2 linked regions of the Homo sapiens genome follow. The protein of the gene in region 1 purifies or fractionates together with the protein of each later gene. This does not show direct contact. Each region holds a gene or a part of one and is shown on either strand. Other genes may lie near its edges. The genes, in order: C8orf58 and FCN1.

The links.
Region 2: the proteins of C8orf58 (region 1) and FCN1 purify together in Homo sapiens (affinity purification with mass spectrometry; one large-scale study listed by BioGRID and IntAct). This does not show direct contact.

The regions. Positions count from the first base shown.
Region 1 is NC_000008.11:22,598,048-22,601,959, forward strand, and holds the start of C8orf58 (uncharacterized protein C8orf58), read left to right. Parts: upstream 1-1,551; 5' UTR 1,552-1,673; coding exon 1,674-1,713; intron 1,714-2,834; coding exon 2,835-3,310; intron 3,311-3,664; coding exon 3,665-3,805; intron 3,806-3,912.
Region 2 is NC_000009.12:134,905,240-134,908,141, forward strand, and holds part of FCN1 (ficolin-1 precursor), read right to left. Parts: 3' UTR 1-2,902.

The sequences.
Region 1 (3,912 bases):
AGGCTCCTGCAGTGGGTGTTTGGGGACTGGTTCCAGAAAGGAGCAAAGGGAAGGGGATGCACAGACTGTCTTACCCCTCCCGGTAAACAGCCACTTCCTTCCAGTGGCTCTGGCTCCAGCCTCTCCCCTCCCCTAGAGGTCCAGGTGCTAGTCTGCACGTCCTCCAGCTCCCTTATCTGCCTCCGGGGGATTTGGGTCCTGCTGGGATTTTTCCAGCCCTGCCCCCTCCCTCTGGAGGAGGTGCCTTCTTTAGAGGACACCAGCCCCAGTCTGGTCACCAGGCTCTCTCTCATCTTCAGTAGCTTCTTGGGCTCCTTTTAGGTTGGGGACTGAGGGGTGGAATCCCACGGGCCAAAGGCAGGGTGAGGTGGGAACAGGGGGACATTTACACTTTGGCCCAGTCTCCAGGCGGCTCCCCGCTGGCTCGCATCTTTCCAGACCTTGAGACCTACCCAGTCCCCAGCTTTAGGGAGCCCGGGATGAGAAAGAGGCAGGGGACCGGGAGGGGGTTCAGATCTAGCTGAGGACACACGCGCGTTCTGCAGTTGTAAAAGATTTCCCGGTGGGCAGGATCGTTTCCCCTCCCATCGCCCAGGTTTCCGAGCGGCCAAGAGACTGGCCCCCAAGCCACACTGCTAGGGAGCGCCGGGTGCCCGCGTCCTGGTCAGCGCTCTTCCCACCGCCAGCACGTGGGGCTCCCATTTCCTTCCTGGCTCTTGTCCGGTCCTCCAGCCAGCCCCGGCTCTAAGTCCGCGGCAGGAAGACGGACGCTGCGTGTGAACCCGCGGGGCCGGGCGGACCGGCGCCCCGAGCCAGACGGCGTCCCCAGGCGGGGGCCGGGTCCTCGCAGAACAGCTGATCGGGACCCTTATTTTGGCCACAGCCACAGTTGGGGGCGCCACCCAGTCCGTGCCTTCGACCTCGTTCTTGGCGACCCGGCCACCTGCGCCCCCCACCTGGCACCCTTGCCTTCCCTCCTCTCGCCCCTCCCCTCCCTCCTCTCGCCCCTCCCCTCTCCTCTCCCCTCCCCTCCCTCTCCTCTCCCCTCCCCTCCCTCTCCTCTCCCCTTTCCCTCTCCCCTCTCCTCTCCTCCCCTCTCCCCTCTCCTTTCCTCCCCTCTCCCCTCTCCCCTCCCTCTCCTCTGCCCACCCTCTCCTCGCCCCTCCCCTCTCCCCTCCCTCTCCCCTCCCCACCCTCTCCTCTCCCCTCCCCTCGCCCTCCTCTTCCTCGCCCCTCCCCTCCCTCTCCTCGCCCCTCCCCTCCCTCTCCTTTCCCCTCCCTCGCCTCGTTCCTCTCATCCCTCGTCTTGCCCCGCCCCTTTCTCCTCGCCCCCTTCTCCTCGCCCCTCCCCCTTCCCCTCGCCCCTCCCCTCCTCTCGCCGCTCCCCTACCTTGCCTCGCCCCTCCCCTCCCTCGTCTCGCCCCTCCCCTCTCTCCTCGCCCCTCCCTTCCTCGTCTCGCTCTTCCTCTCTCCTCCCCCTAGGCCACGCCCCCCACCGCCCCGCCCCCCGCCCCCCCAGCCCCGCTCCCCGCCCCCCCAGCCCCGCTGGGAGTGTCTGGGGGCCGCGCCCAGCTGGGTCGGGACGCGCTCCCTGAGCTGCCCGAGCTCCGCGGGGACTCGGGCCGGGATCCTCGGGCGGCTGCATTGGCCGGGGCCGGGGCCGGGAGCGGGCCATGATGGGCCGGCGGCGCGCCTTCGCCGTGGACGGCCGGGGTGAGTCACCCACCCCCAGGCTGGCCGGGCTCCCCCCTGCCCCGGAGCCGCTTCCCGCCCCCAAGCCGGGCACCCTCTCTCAGTTTCTTGCCCAGCCCCGCGCACCCCGCGGGCGGAGCCCGCGCCGCTGCGCCTCCCTCGCCGCCTCCCTGGAGGGGCGGTCATCAGGGGACGCCATGCAGGCTGGAACCCCTTTGGGCCCAGGCGTTAAACCAGCCACCGCCTCCGCCCCACTTCCTCCGGCTCCGCTTCCCTCGCCTTCCCGCTCCTTCTGAGGATGTGGGAATCCGCCCGCGCCCCAGCCCCCTCCGTGGCTGCGGACCCCTCTCCCACCCAGTGACCTCCTGGCCCACTTCCTTGCCCAGAGGGGCCTGGGTTGGCATTCGGCTCCCGCGTGCCCCGCAGCTCGTCCCCGCCCCCCTAGCCTGTTTCCCGTACCGTTCATTCCGCCAGGACGCCCCGTCGCCAGAGGGCCTGGCGGAGGTGACAGTGAGGGGGTGCTAATGCTGCCCCTTCGTCCCTTTCTTTCACTTCAGTTCTTTCATTTTAAACTTTTCATAAAATCTTCACTATTGCTCACTTACAACAAAAGCCCAAATCGGTTATAGCGGTGATTTTTATCACTCTCCCGGTGAGCTGCAGGAGAGACTTCACCTGGCATCCTGATGCCGCAGGGGCCCCCAGAGAGCAGGTTGGATCCCAGGCTTTCCTCTCTGTACCCTCTCCCCTCTCCCTGAAGCTGGATACAGTCCTACTCCCGCTTGGGGAGCAGCGGAAGAGCCTGTGGCTCCCTACTTCTGACTCGGGAGATCGTGGGCTGATCCTAGGTGGGAAGCGCAGGCGCAGGCCGTCTAAGGGATTGATGGATGTGGCCTGCCAGGGCTTTGCCTACCACACAGCTCAGAGCACGGGTTCCCTGTCGCTAACAACCGTTGCGAAGGGAATCCCATCCACACATCTCCCAGACAGCTGGGGCCATATCCGGGCTGCCCGTGGCTGTCCAGTGACCGCCCTTCCTCACTGCTCCGGGACACTTCTCCCTGGGGCAGTGCTGCCAGCCTTCAGGAATGCTGGGGGTGTTGGGGGTGGCCTGCCCAGCCTGACGCTGACTCTCCATGCAGATGGGGCTGGCGAGGGCCTGGCACGGGGCTGCATAGTGCCTGGAGTCACCAGCACCTACAGACGGATCCCCGACGCTGCCCACGGGTGCTCATCCTGGGAGAGAGGTGACAAGTTCAGAGGTGTCGGCAGGGAGGCACTCTTTCTCAAACTGGCCTCCCGGGACTCAGGAGTGGAGATGGCAGTTGGGGACAGCCCCCTGGCCGCCTTACCGGGCCTTTCTCAGGACTCCCTGGACTTTGAATCCTCAGGGAGTTCTGAGCCCCCCGCCCAGGTAGGCCGACTCCTGGCCAGCCAGAAGCTGGGGGAGGTGTTGGAGCGGTCCCGCCGGCTCCCAACAGCTCCCACCAGCTTGTCAGGACAACACCGCTCCCTGCGGCTGGCAAGCAAGCCTGAGCGTGAAGTGCCCCTTGGAGCAGGGCAACAGGAGTCCATGGAGGCAGACACAGACCTAGAGGCAGGCCTGGAAGAAGAGGCGGTGAGTGCTCACTCTCAGGCTGGGTTTAAGAGTGGGATGGACAGCCTAGCTCCTCTGGTTCTCCCTGGAGCTCTCTCTGGGTGGGGCACTCCCTGCCCCTAATTGATGGGTTGTGTCATAGGTTCTTTCTGCACCCCAGTTCCATTTGTGCACGGCCACCTCTGCAGAGGAGGTGGGCAGCTACGGGGGCCCTTCCTGGCACTATGCCCCGCTGGGCAGTGGGGAAGCCGGCTGCGTGTGTTCCTCCTCGGGGCCCACTCTGCTCCCATCTGCTGGCTGAGCCCAGCCTGGCTGCTTAGGGTAGGGCAGGAGCCCTACTGGCTGAAATCTCCCCTATCTCACAATGTCCCACAGGTGGGGGGCCTGGGGCCTGGAGCCTGGGCCTGCCTCCCCGGGCAGGGTCTTCGCTATCTGGAACACCTGTGCCTGGTGCTGGAGCAGATGGCAAGGCTCCAGCAGCTCTACCTGCAGCTGCGGATCCAGAGGCCCCCAGGGGTGAGTGAGATTCGAGTGGGGGAGGGAGAGGACAGATGGGACCCTGGGAACCATGGCTGCCCTCAGAGCAGCTTCAGCCCTCTAGCCAGGCCCTGATCACCTGTCTC
Region 2 (2,902 bases), on another chromosome or scaffold:
CAGAAACAACACTATGTGGATGTCCACGAATGCCCAAATGTTGCTGGATGGGCCCACGCCTACACTCCTACTTGAGAGGTCCCATGGCCAGGAAGAAGAGCACTGGCCCAAGAGGAGGAGGGCTTGATTTCTTTTCACCCATTCAGCTTTATCCCTCAAATCACAAAAGCTCTCTCAGTTCTGCTGATGTGAGTTGGGGAGGAATTGGTGATGGGAAAAGACTCTTCATCTCTTCATAAGCTTGCTTTGCTTCTTTTATTTTGAGACAGAGTCTCGCTCTGTCGCCCAGGCTGGAGTGCAGTGGTGCGATCTCGGCTCACTTCAACCTCTGCCTCCTGGGTTCACGCCATTCTCCTGCCTCAGCTTCTCGAGTAGCTGGGACGATAGGCATCCCCCACCATGAACGGCTAATTTTTTTGTATTTTTAGTAGAGACGGGGTTTCATCATGTTAGCCAGGATGGTCTTGATCTCCTGACCTTGTGATCCGCCCGCCTCGGCCTCCCAAAGTGCTGGGATTACAAGCGTGAGCCACCGCGCCTGGCCGCTGCTGCTGCTTCTTCTTCTTCTTCCTCTTCTTCTTCTTCTTCCTCTTCCTCTTCCTCTTCCTCTTCCTCTTCCTCTTCCTCTTCTTCTTCTTCTTCTTCTTCTTCTTCTTCTTCTTCTTCTTCTTCTTCTTCTTCTTCTCCCTCTCCCTCTCCCTCTCCCTCTCCCTCTCCCTCTCCCTCTTTCTCCTTCTTCTTCTTCTTCTTTTTATTTTTATTTTTTTTTTGAGGCGGAATCTCGCTCTGTTCCCCAGGCTGGAGTGCAGTGGCACGATCTCAGCTCACTGCAACCTCCACCTCCCGGGATCAAGCGATTTCTGGCGGAGTTTTGTATTTTTAGTAGAGAGGAGGTTTCATCATGTTGGCCAGGCTGGTCTTGAACTCCTGATCTCAAGTGATCCACCCACTTCAGCCTCCTAAAGTGCTAGGATTACAGGCGTGAGCCACTGTGCCCAGCCTGCTTTGCTTCTTAAAATTAATGTTCAGTTTCTGAAAGCTACAAATTCAAAAACTCAATTCATCCTGAATATTTTAAGTTTGGCTTACAGTTCTTGTTTTTCTATTTATAAGACCTGCAAATCTTAAGAGTCACCTTTTTAGAGCTTTTGGATACCATAAATTTAGTTCTTTAAATAACTTCAAACATTTAAAATTGCAATAAGAAGTGGAATACACTCAAATTTCTCCTGCGGCATTTCAGCTGTCTAATGAGAAAACCCTCCTTAGCACTAATTAATCTTTAAAAATCTAATAATTTAACTTAAATCTTAAGAAATCTAATAATTTAACTTAGAAATGCAATGAGCTCAAAGTCTCTTAAATATGCCAATACCGTGTATAAACGCACTAAGATTTCCATGTAATATTACAAGATGATTTTGATTAGTTAGTTCCACATTTTATATTGGATTTGTGAGATTCTTCATAATAGGCCAAATTATTTAAACATTACAAGACTGTGAAAAATCAAACCTGTCCAGATTCCTTAATACAAAAGGCATATTTTGGCCAGGCACAGTGTCTCACGCCTGTAATCTCAGCAATTTGGGAGGCAGAGGCGGGTGGATCACTTGAGGTCGGGAGTTCAAGACCAGCCTGGCCAACACGGCGAAACCCCATCTCTACTAAAAATACAAAAAAATTGCTGGGCATGGTTGTGTGTGCCTGTGATCCCAGCTACTTGGGAGGCTGAAGCATGAGAATCTCTTGAACCTGGGAGGTGGAGATTGCAGTGAGCTGAGATCACGCCACTGCACTCCAGCCTGGGTGGCAGAGTAAAACTCTGTCTCAAAAAACAAACTAAAAGGCATATTTCTATGGCTATTTTATATTTATATTAATCATATTTATATTTTATATTTATACTAATCATTTCTAGACTTAAAGCTAAGTCTTCCTAGGTTGTAAAAATGCTTACCTACTGAGGGACGAAAGTACTATCCCAATAGTGGATTTTGTGATGGACTAGAGATTGTGGCAGGGGCGTAGTAGGGTCTGGTCAGCCCCCAATGGGCTACAAGGACCTCTCCTTACAGGTATTGAGTCAAGAACACTGGGCATCAGTGGAGGATGTGCCTGTAGCTCATGTTCCTGGATCCAAGCATGTGCAGTTTCTTTATAAGTAGTTTTTAAATTGTGGAACATAACATGTACTCAAAAGTGTATAAAGCAAAAGTACAGCTTAATTATTTTCATCACTAGTTAACAAACATCCTTACAATCACCACCTGGGTCAAGAAACAGAGCATTGCCAGAACCCCAGAGGCTTGTCCCTGTCCCTTCCCAGTCACCATGTGGTCCCACCCTCAAATACAATCACTTTCTTATTTTTCCTGTATACATTTACCACCTAAATATGCATCCAAAATACCATTGGCTACTTTTGCTTTTGAAAAACTTTATCTACAATGGAATCCATAGCACATACCCTCTTGAACAGGCTCCTTTTGCTGCCATGTTTGTGAGACTCATGCTCCTTGTGTGTAGGTGTCACTGTGTAATTGTCATGGCTGTATGGCGTTCTACCCAATGGCTATCCTTGCATTTTTTAACATCCATTCTCTTCCTGATGGGTATGTCGGCTGATTCCAGTTTGGTGCTATGGTGAGTATTTGGCTGTAAAGATTCCTGGCCATGCTCCCTGGTACACATGACGGCCATATCCAGGCCCTGATGTGGGACTGGCAGGTTAGAGGACTGTGTGTCTTCTTCTCCAACAGTTGATGCCAAGCCATTTTCCAGGTTGGTTCCATCAATTCGCATTGTTACTAGCAGTGTATGCAAATCTCCCTCCCACAGTCACCTTTGACACTGGTGCTATCCATCTTTCTAACTTCTGAGGCTCAGATGAGGGTGCCGC